Linked DNA regions of Homo sapiens. The protein of the gene in region 2 purifies or fractionates together with the protein of the main gene of each other region. This does not show direct contact. Each region holds a gene or a part of one and is shown on either strand. Other genes may lie near its edges.

Region 1 (3,396 bases), on a different chromosome or scaffold from region 2:
GAGTGCAGTGTTCTATGAATGTCATTTAAGCCAGGTATGTTAATTGTTATTCAAATTTTCTGCTTGTTGGCCAGGCACAGTGGCTCATGCCTGTAATCCCAGCACTTTGGGAGGCTGAGGCTGGCGGATCACCTTAGGCCAGGAGTTCGAGACCAGCCTGGCCAACACGGCGAAACCCCGTCTCTACTAAAAATACAAAAATTAGCAGGATGTGGCAGCGGGCGGCTGTAATCCCAGATACCCAGGAGGCTGAGGCAGGAGAATTGCTTAAACCTGTGAGGCAGATGTTGCAGTGAGCTGAGATTATGCCACTGCACTCCAGCTTGGGAAACAAGACCGAAACTCCAATTCCCAAAAACAAAACAAAACAAACCAACAAATTTTCTATTTGTTATATCTGCTTTTGAAATAAACATATGAAAATATTTTTCCAAAAATTAAATTCCATAATGTATCAGGAAAGAAAAATATAATTTCATTCTAAGGTTTCCTATTCCAAATTTTTTCTCTGAGTTTTTGAAAGCAACAACTTTGTATATCCCCCTTTTCCTAGCCTTTAAGCAGCAGGAACAATGAGCAGAGGAATAATATGTAGTTAGTAAGCAAGGCATGCTCTGAAGGCTACCAATGCTGCTCCTGTTCCACCAGTGAAACAGGCCACAGGCCCTCTAAGGCTCTTGAAAAAAGAACGTGGAAGCATAGGGCAGCTGTGTCCCACTGACAGCCAGGCATGGAAACAATCCTGGAGATGTGCTCCAAGCCTTGAACTTGAGGAAATGAACATCAAAGTTCGTAAGATGTTTCAAGCATTACCTTGTCACTATGGAAGTCTCTCCCTACACTGGCACTAAGTTCTGGCCAATATGGCCAGGAGTGAAGTTCTGTCCCAGTAAAACATACTTTTATCAGGTAAGGGGCATCATCCCCCTCCCAGCCTCCCAAACAGCTTTTGTACCTCAGATGGAGTCTCCCCAAAAAACATGTTCACAAAAGAACCACTACTGCCATCTTAGCAGGGCTGTGTGTGTGTGTGTGTGTGTGTTGTGTAGGTAGACAGAGGGGAGAAGCAGGCATGACAAGGATCACCTGACCAAAGTGCCTAGTTACCCATATACTGATAGAATAAAATCTCCAGTGTAAAGGAAAAATTATTTTTACAAAAACAGAAGCATGTTTTATTTCAATCCTGTTAAGGGAGAGGGATGGAAAACACAAAATAAGGGGAGGGGTCTCTTTATATAATACACACACCAGGATCAACTACAATGAATAATACCCATTCCATCCCTCCCCCACCAACTCCTATGTGGGTTCCAAGGCCAGCTGAGAATAGATGGGACAAGAATTAAGACACTTTGGCACAGTAACATGGCCAATGCACCGAAAGATGGAGAGAAGAGAATTTCCCAGGGAGCAAGGCCCTGGGCCTCAGCTGCTTCCCCAGTGGAGGGGTAATGAGAAAACTTTGGCTCAGCAGGAAGGCGGTTGTCAAAAATCTGGGTTACCTTAACTGGACTCTCCAGATCACAGACTACGGGCTGAATAGAGTCAAGATGTCTATCCAGTCCATTCTGTTCTCTGCTTTCTCTAAGATCACTTCTCTTCAGGCTTGCAATTATTGAGGGTTGGCCTGCTTCTCCTCTTCATCTTGGAAGGCAGGGGGAGTAAGTGCTTATTCTGCCCTTCCTATATCTAGGCCACTTAATTACTATTTTCTTGGCTCTAAAGAGACAGAAGCCAACTAACAAGTCCGGCTCTCTTTGTGAAAGTCGGCTTGAAAGAGCCCTTGTGTTGGCAAAACTGCCTCTGCAAATGGGTTTTTTTTTTTTTGAGCCTACCCCTTATAGACCCTCCCCAAGCTTGTTCAGACACCTCAATTGTGTGAGATGTGGGCAGAAAAGACTTGGTCCCTCTCCAGAGTTGGATTAAGCAATCCCATCTTTGACTGGAGATAGGGATGAGAAAGCAGGTGCTAGCAGGGGAAAGAACCGGGGAAAGCAAGGCAGTTTACACTAGGTTGCAGATTCAAGCCTATGGATTGTGAAGAGCCACCTAAGCTCCAGAGAAGAGGAAATCTCTGACACGATATGAACAAGTGAATATTTTAGCGGCAACCCTGTAATTCCCATAGACTAAAAGAGAATGGTCAAAAAAAAAAAAAAAAAAAAAAAAAAAAGACTGAGTGAGCAGAACCCAGCCCTCCATCTTCAATCTGAATAAAATTAACTCATACAGCTAATACTGCTCAAGTACAATCATGAAGACAGATGGAGCTGCTGAAATTCACACTAAAACAAAGAAAAGGATCAAGTGGACTGTCACCTTAATCCCAAGCACCTCCCTTTTAGAGTTATTGAGAAAATATCTTTGAAAACTTGGATTGAAGGTGAGGTCCACCACCGCCCCTTGTCTCCCAATACAATACCCTTCCAAGACAGCCTGATTAATTAAGACATCTGTTTTAAGTTTAATAGAAGGGAAGTTCAAAAAGGGAAAGCACTGAGATTTGGGAAAACTAGCAGCTAAAGCCAGAAACAAGGTTAAGGTCCTCGTGGCATTCCGGACTGGGAGTAGAATGGGAGAAGGAAGGGAAACAGGTGGTGGGTTCCTGCTGTACTTTGGCTTTACATCTTTCCCCTGCCCTCCCATTTCTCCCAACAGCTTGATGCAGCTATTGGCCTGCCAGAGGGGATGTAATGCCCAGACCAACTTTTTATTGAGCTTATGCAGCTAACAGACTTGTAAACAGTGCCAGTCGACAAAGTTTTGCTGAATATTACAGCTTGTGCCCACTAAACACACCTCTCTCTGAGATTAAAAACAAAAAAACCAAAGTAAACAAATACTGAGAGAGAATGAAGAGACATATCTTGAGTCTTCCAGAAAGGCAAAATAAAAAACGCCACATGGCTTGGTCCCAGGCGTTCACCATGCCTAGAGTGCTGCTGCTATCACCACTGTCTCCCCTCCCTGCCAGTGGCTAGGTAGAGGTAGGGGAGAAGGGTCATCTTGGACATGCTGCAAATACAGCATTTGCTGGTGTTGACACCCTCCTGGGGCTGTGGTGGCAGACTGCTGTGTCAGGAGCCCATTTCCTGGGAGTAGCAGAGGGAGCCCAGGTCCTCAAGACAGCCTGAGATGGCAGCCCATACACCTCAGCAGGGGTACCTTGCCCCTTTTCTCCAGTGCGGTTCAGCATTGAGGTTGTCTATTCCCAGTCGGTGATAAAACCTGAGCTGTTTTTCTCGTAGGTTCCCCCTCCTTTCCCCAACTTGGGGGAGTAGTGGGAGGGAACAGGGAAGGATCACTGAGGGGGCAGGGGGATACCCCGGGGATCGGTGACCTGGCCCTCTTGCAGGTTCTTCACCAGTTGTGCAAGCCAGCGTTTCGTGGTGG
Region 2 (5,552 bases):
GAGGAAACGTTAAGACCAGGTGGTGGATGAGGACCGGTAACCTCAAGGCATGGGGCATCTTGACCAAGATGTCAAAATGTGTCTCCAGCTTTGCATGCGAACTTTAATGGTTGCAAGTGAGGAAACAAAACCGGAATTCCAGACGTGCTGGCCAGGAAGTGAGCTGCGGGCACCGTCCATCAGTCTCATTCACAAGAGCAAGGACCAGACCCGTTCGAGGATTAGCGGGGCCACTAGGTCCCCTTCTGAAGGCGCGACCCCATGTCCGGGGCTCAGCGGGGCCACTGGATCCCCTTCCGAAGGCGCGACCCCATGTCCGGGGCTCAGCGGGGCCGCTGGGTCCCCTTCCGAAGGCGCGACCCCATGTCCGGGGCTCAGCGGGGCCGCTGGGTCCCCTTCCGAAGGCGCGACCCCATGTCCGGGGCTCAGCGGGGCCGCTGGGTCCCCTTCCGAAGGCGCGACCCCATGTCCGGGGCTCAGCGGGGCCGCTGGGTCCCCTTCCGAAGGCGCGACCCCATGTCCGGGGCTCAGCGGGGCCGCTGGGTCCCCTTCCGAAGGCGCGACCCCATGTCCGGGGCTCAGCGGGGCCGCTGGGTCCCCTTCCGAAGGCGCGACCCCATGTCCGGGGCTCAGCGGGGCCGCTGGGTCCCCTTCCGAAGGCGCGACCCCATGTCCGGGGCTCAGCGGGGCCGCTGGGTCCCCTTCCGAAGGCGCGACCCCATGTCCGGGGCTCAGCGGGGCCGCTGGGTCCCCTTCCGAAGGCGCGACCCCATGTCCGGGGCTCAGCGGGGCCGCTGGGTCCCCTTCCGAAGGCGCGACCCCATGTCCGGGGCTCAGCGGGGCCGCTGGGTCCCCTTCCGAAGGCGCGACCCCATGTCCGGGGCTCAGCGGGGCCGCTGGGTCCCCTTCCGAAGGCGCGACCCCATGTCCGGGGCTCAGCGGGGCCGCTGGGTCCCCTTCCGAAGGCGCGACCCCATGTCCGGGGCTCAGCGGGGCCGCTGGGTCCCCTTCCGAAGGCGCGACCCCATGTCCGGGGCTCAGCGGGGCCGCTGGGTCCCCTTCCGAAGGCGCGACCCCATTTCGGGGGTTAGTGGGGCCGCTGAGTCCACTTGCGAAGGCGCCACCCCACGTGAGGGTGCTGTGGAGCATGGGAGACGTCCCTGCCTCTTGCATTTTAACGTGAAAAGGCAAGCTTGCGCCCATTAGACGAGGTTCAGTGAGTCATCAAAAGCGGCTCACCCCTAGGCCTGCAGCGGAACACTGCCGCGCTTTCAGAGCCCTTCTCTTCCTCGTAGCAATGCCCTCCCCACCTGAGGGCACCTTTGCCCCACGTCTTGCGTGAATCACATCCTCACTGTTCTTGAGTCTCACTGTACAGATGTGTCTAAACACCACATTGCTTGCTGTGCAGTGTAAAGTTGATTTATAGGGGCTTGTACTTTGCAGTCTCTGCTGTTGCTGTTCCCCGTCACTGCTTTTAGACTCCTCCGTGTTGACAGGCATCGCTGGGCCTTCCCTTCCTCGTGAGGAACGCCATTCAGTCCTCGCCTGCTGGACGTGTGCGTCACCACGGACGGTGTGGCTGTGAACGTGTTGTCCCCGTCTCCTGGGCACATACCCGGAGAGCCTCTCTAGGAGAGCCTTGCTTGGCCGTAGCAGACGGAGGGGTTTCATTTGCCAAGGCTTTTGTGGCAGGATTACAATGATTCCATCCAGGCGACTAAATGATACTGCAGTTTGGATTTAGTTTGCGTTTCCCTAATTCTCGGTGAGGTTGAGTGCTTTCCTATCTTGTTTCATTACACACAGACGCTCACACATGCTCCATTTAAATGAAGCAGGTTCACGTAGTGGGGCACACTGTGGGGTCTGAATCCATTTCTACCTTTTCCCAGCAGCATTTTTTTTTTTTTTTTTTTGAGATGGAGTTTCGCTCTTGTCCCCCAGGCTGTAGTGCAATGGTGTGATCCAAGCTCACCGCAACCTACGCCTCCCAGGTTCAAGCGATTTTCCTGCCTCAGCCTCCCGAGTAGCTGGGATTACAGGCATGCGCCACCACGCCTGGCTAATTTTGTATTTTTAGTAGAGATGGGGTTTCTCATGTTGGTCAGGCTGGTCTCAAACTCTCGACCTCAGTTGATCTGCCTGCCTCGGCCTCCCAAAGTGCTGGGATTACAGGTGTGAGCCACCGTGCCCAGCTCCCAGCAGCATTTATTTAGAAGGCTATCTTCACCAGCTATAGCAGGAGCTCAGTTCCATTATACCTGCAGGATCACTTCTGGTTTCCATTCCAGTCCACTGTTGGTCCACCTATGTGCCAGCACCACACTGTCTACATTATTGAGGTTCTATGGTGTGTTTGAATATCTGATGGGACTGATTCCTCTTCATTGCTCTTGTAGTCTGTCAGATTTTTTAAAAACAATTTTTTTGTAGAGTTGGGGTCTCCCTTTGTTTCCCAGGCTGGTCTCGAGCTCCTAAACTCACGCAATCCTTCCTTCCCAGCCTCCTGTATAGCTGGCATTACAGGTGCACAACAGTGCGCCCGGCTCTGCCAGATTTTTAAATGTATTTTTGAGACTTTGTTGTTAGCTGCATACAAACTTTTAACTGTTTGTAAACAGATTTCCTAGTGAAGCGGTTCCCATGATTCCGCGGTGGCACAGGCCTTTTGTTGTAAAGTATTCCTCTTTATGTCTCACGGTTCTTTTTGTTTCAGAGTCTGATTTATCCCGTACGAATGCGGCAGTGCCACCTTTCTCTTGGTTAGGATTTTCTTGATATGTCTTTTTCTATCCTTTTACCTTCTACATTTCTGCATCCTTAAACTTGAGTGTGTATGTTGTAAATAGTCTATAGTTAGCTTTAAAAATATATCCAGACTGCAGACTTTTTCTTATATCTGAATAAAGGCAATTAAAACAATTTATAAGCAAGAGAATTCACCCACTTTAAGAGCACAGTTGAGTGAGTCACTTTGCACGTCATTGCCGCCACAATCAGGACCAAGACTGTTCGCCCGTGGCATGGGGCTCCTCGTGCCCCTTGTGCTCAGTCCGTCTCCCACCTGTGTCCGGCAGCCGGTGCCTGCTGCGGGGCGAGCAGCACTGCCTACTCGGAATCCCATCTGCACAGAGCCATGGTGCGTGGAGCTGTGCGTCTGCTTCCTTTTCCCTGGCATCTTGCTGGTTTTGAGTGTGCTGGGTTGTGGGGTGGATCAGTGGCCCGTTCCTCCATCTTGAGAGTGCTGGGTCATGGTGTGGAGAGAGTGCTGGGTCGTGGCATGGATCAGTGGCCTGTTCCTCCCGTCTTGAGTGTACTGGGTCATGGCTTGGATCCGTGGCCCATTCCTCTCACCCTGAGCATGCTGAGTTGTGGTGTGGATCGGTGGCCCGTTCCTTCCGTCTTCAGCACACTGGGTCGTAGCGTGGATCAGCGGCCCCTTCCTTCCCTCCTGAGTGCTCTGGGTCATGTGGATCCCTCTGGTCCTTTCTTCCTGCTGCTGAGTGCTGTGGAGCCCATCCCACGGGTCTCCTCCGCTGGCTTCTCCAGTGGTCAGTGGAAGGTAACAGCGCTGATGAAGGTGTATATTTAACTACCTTTTTTTCTTATTGGGTTTTTAAAAGTTGCAAAGTTATCTTTTAAAGGTTTTTGTTTCTTTGTTTTTGTGAGATGAAGGTAAAAATCAGGCTTAAAGTGCTCCCTGTGTTTCCTAAGATGTGCCTGAGTGGGGAGCCTCGGCCAGGCGCACCCCACAGGGATGCAGGGCCACAGGTGGGAGATGTGCTTTTCTCCTGTGACTCTGCAGTAGGCTCTGGAGGGCAGGTCTCTGCCCTGGGTGGCACATGGACTCTCCTGATGCTGAGAGGCTCGGGCGCTGCACCCCGCCCTGCTGATGCTGAGATGCTTGGGTGCTCCACCCCGCCCTGCTGATGCTGAGATGCTCCGTTGCTGCACCCTGCCCTGCTGATGCTGAGATGCTCGGGCGCTCCACCCTGCCCTGCTGATGCTCAGAGCCTCGGGCGCTCCACCCCGCCCTGCTGACGCTCAGAGCCTGGGGCGTTCCACCCTGCCCTGCTGATGCTCAGAGCCTCGGGCGCTGCACCCCGCCCTGCTGATGCTCAGAGCCTCGGGCGCTGCACCCCGCCCTGCTGATGCTCAGAGCCTCGGGTGTTCCACCCTGCCCTGCTGATGCTCAGAGCCTCGGGCGCTCCACCCCGCCCTGCTGATGCTGAGATGCTCGGGCGCTCCACCCCGCCCTGCTGATGCTCAGAGCCTCAGGCGCTGCACCCACCCTGCTGAGTCTGAGAGGCTTGGGCAAGGTTTCAGCCTCAGACACGCTGGTGGGAAGTAGCACGCTTCCTCGCTCAGGCCCCAGCGCCCTCCTTGGCCTCAGCTTGTGGAGCTGTTAGAGGAGCAAGTGCTCTGTGCAGCTGGAGTTCCGAGGCATGGTCCCCAGAACGGCCAGTGTGTTTCGGGTTCAGCATCAGCACAGGAGCCCTTCCGTGCTGCCACGTGACCCCTGGAGCTCGTTGATCCACTACCTGTGTGTTCAGGACTTCTCTCCTGAACGCTGTATATGTTGTTTGGAGAAACAATTACAGACATCAGATTTTCTTTTCTGTTGTAAGAAGAGATGATGCGTAGACATTTAAATTAAATCATTTGTTAATATCCTATACTGACAACCTGGCAGCGTTTGCAGGAGTGACACTGTGGACATGCTGTGCCCCACACGCTGCGGCCCCACTTACGCTGCTGGAGACGGTCCCCCACCCCGGGCCTCATCCTCAGCGAGGACCCCTGCCTGACACACACGGAGCTGGCAGTCAGCACCCCACCCCGCATGGAGCTGCGCAGCCCTGTGTCCCCACACACGGAGCTGGCAGTCAGCACCCCACCCCACATGGAGCTGCGCAGCCCTGTGTCCCCACACACGGAGCTGGCAGTCAGCACCCCACCCCGCACCTTGTGTCCCCGCACCTCGGCCATATTTCAGTTAACTACCAGATTCATCAGTGGGCCGGGGATGTGGGAAGCAAGATGATTCCCTGGTAGGCTCCACGGGGTCTCAGTGGGAAATGCAGGTGGAGGGACACAGCAGCCCTGGAAGTCCCGCGGCGCTGCCACGGGGAGGGCTGGACCACCCACTGCGGTGCCTCTCCCTCAGCAGGCACGCCCTCGTCGGCCTGGTTAGAAAATCATCTTTTGGCCTCACTGTGCCAGCCTAGTCAGCTCTCAGCTCCCTGAGTCAGGGAAAGGGGTGGAAAAGTGGACAGTCCAGCAGCGCATGTTCTAGAACCCTCTGCAGATGCAGCCAGGCCAGCGAGCACACGCAGGAGGCAGACGGACACCTTCTTGGGTGTTGAGTGGCTGCTCCTGCCTCAGGGCTGCAGATGCAGGCTCACAGCCCCCTGGTGAGTCCCGGAGTGGCTGCATCCAATCTCCAGATCCTCTGTCTTCCCATAAAGGAGACTGAACCCGTGGTGGTTTCTAGATCAAGATTTTTCTCTGAGTAACTCAGGGTTATTATAACATGCAACCTATGGTCA

The links.
Region 1: the proteins of WRAP73 (region 2) and CNOT9 purify together in Homo sapiens (affinity purification with mass spectrometry; 3 studies listed by BioGRID and IntAct, with this or other methods). This does not show direct contact.

The regions. Positions count from the first base shown.
Region 1 is NC_000002.12:218,594,185-218,597,580, reverse strand, and holds the end of CNOT9 (CCR4-NOT transcription complex subunit 9), read right to left. Parts: coding exon 3,305-3,396; 3' UTR 501-3,304; downstream 1-500. UniProt on the Homo sapiens protein: Component of the CCR4-NOT complex which is one of the major cellular mRNA deadenylases and is linked to various cellular processes including bulk mRNA degradation, miRNA-mediated repression, translational repression during translational initiation and general transcription regulation.
Region 2 is NC_000001.11:3,639,105-3,644,656, reverse strand, and holds part of WRAP73 (WD repeat-containing protein WRAP73), read left to right. Parts: intron 1-5,552.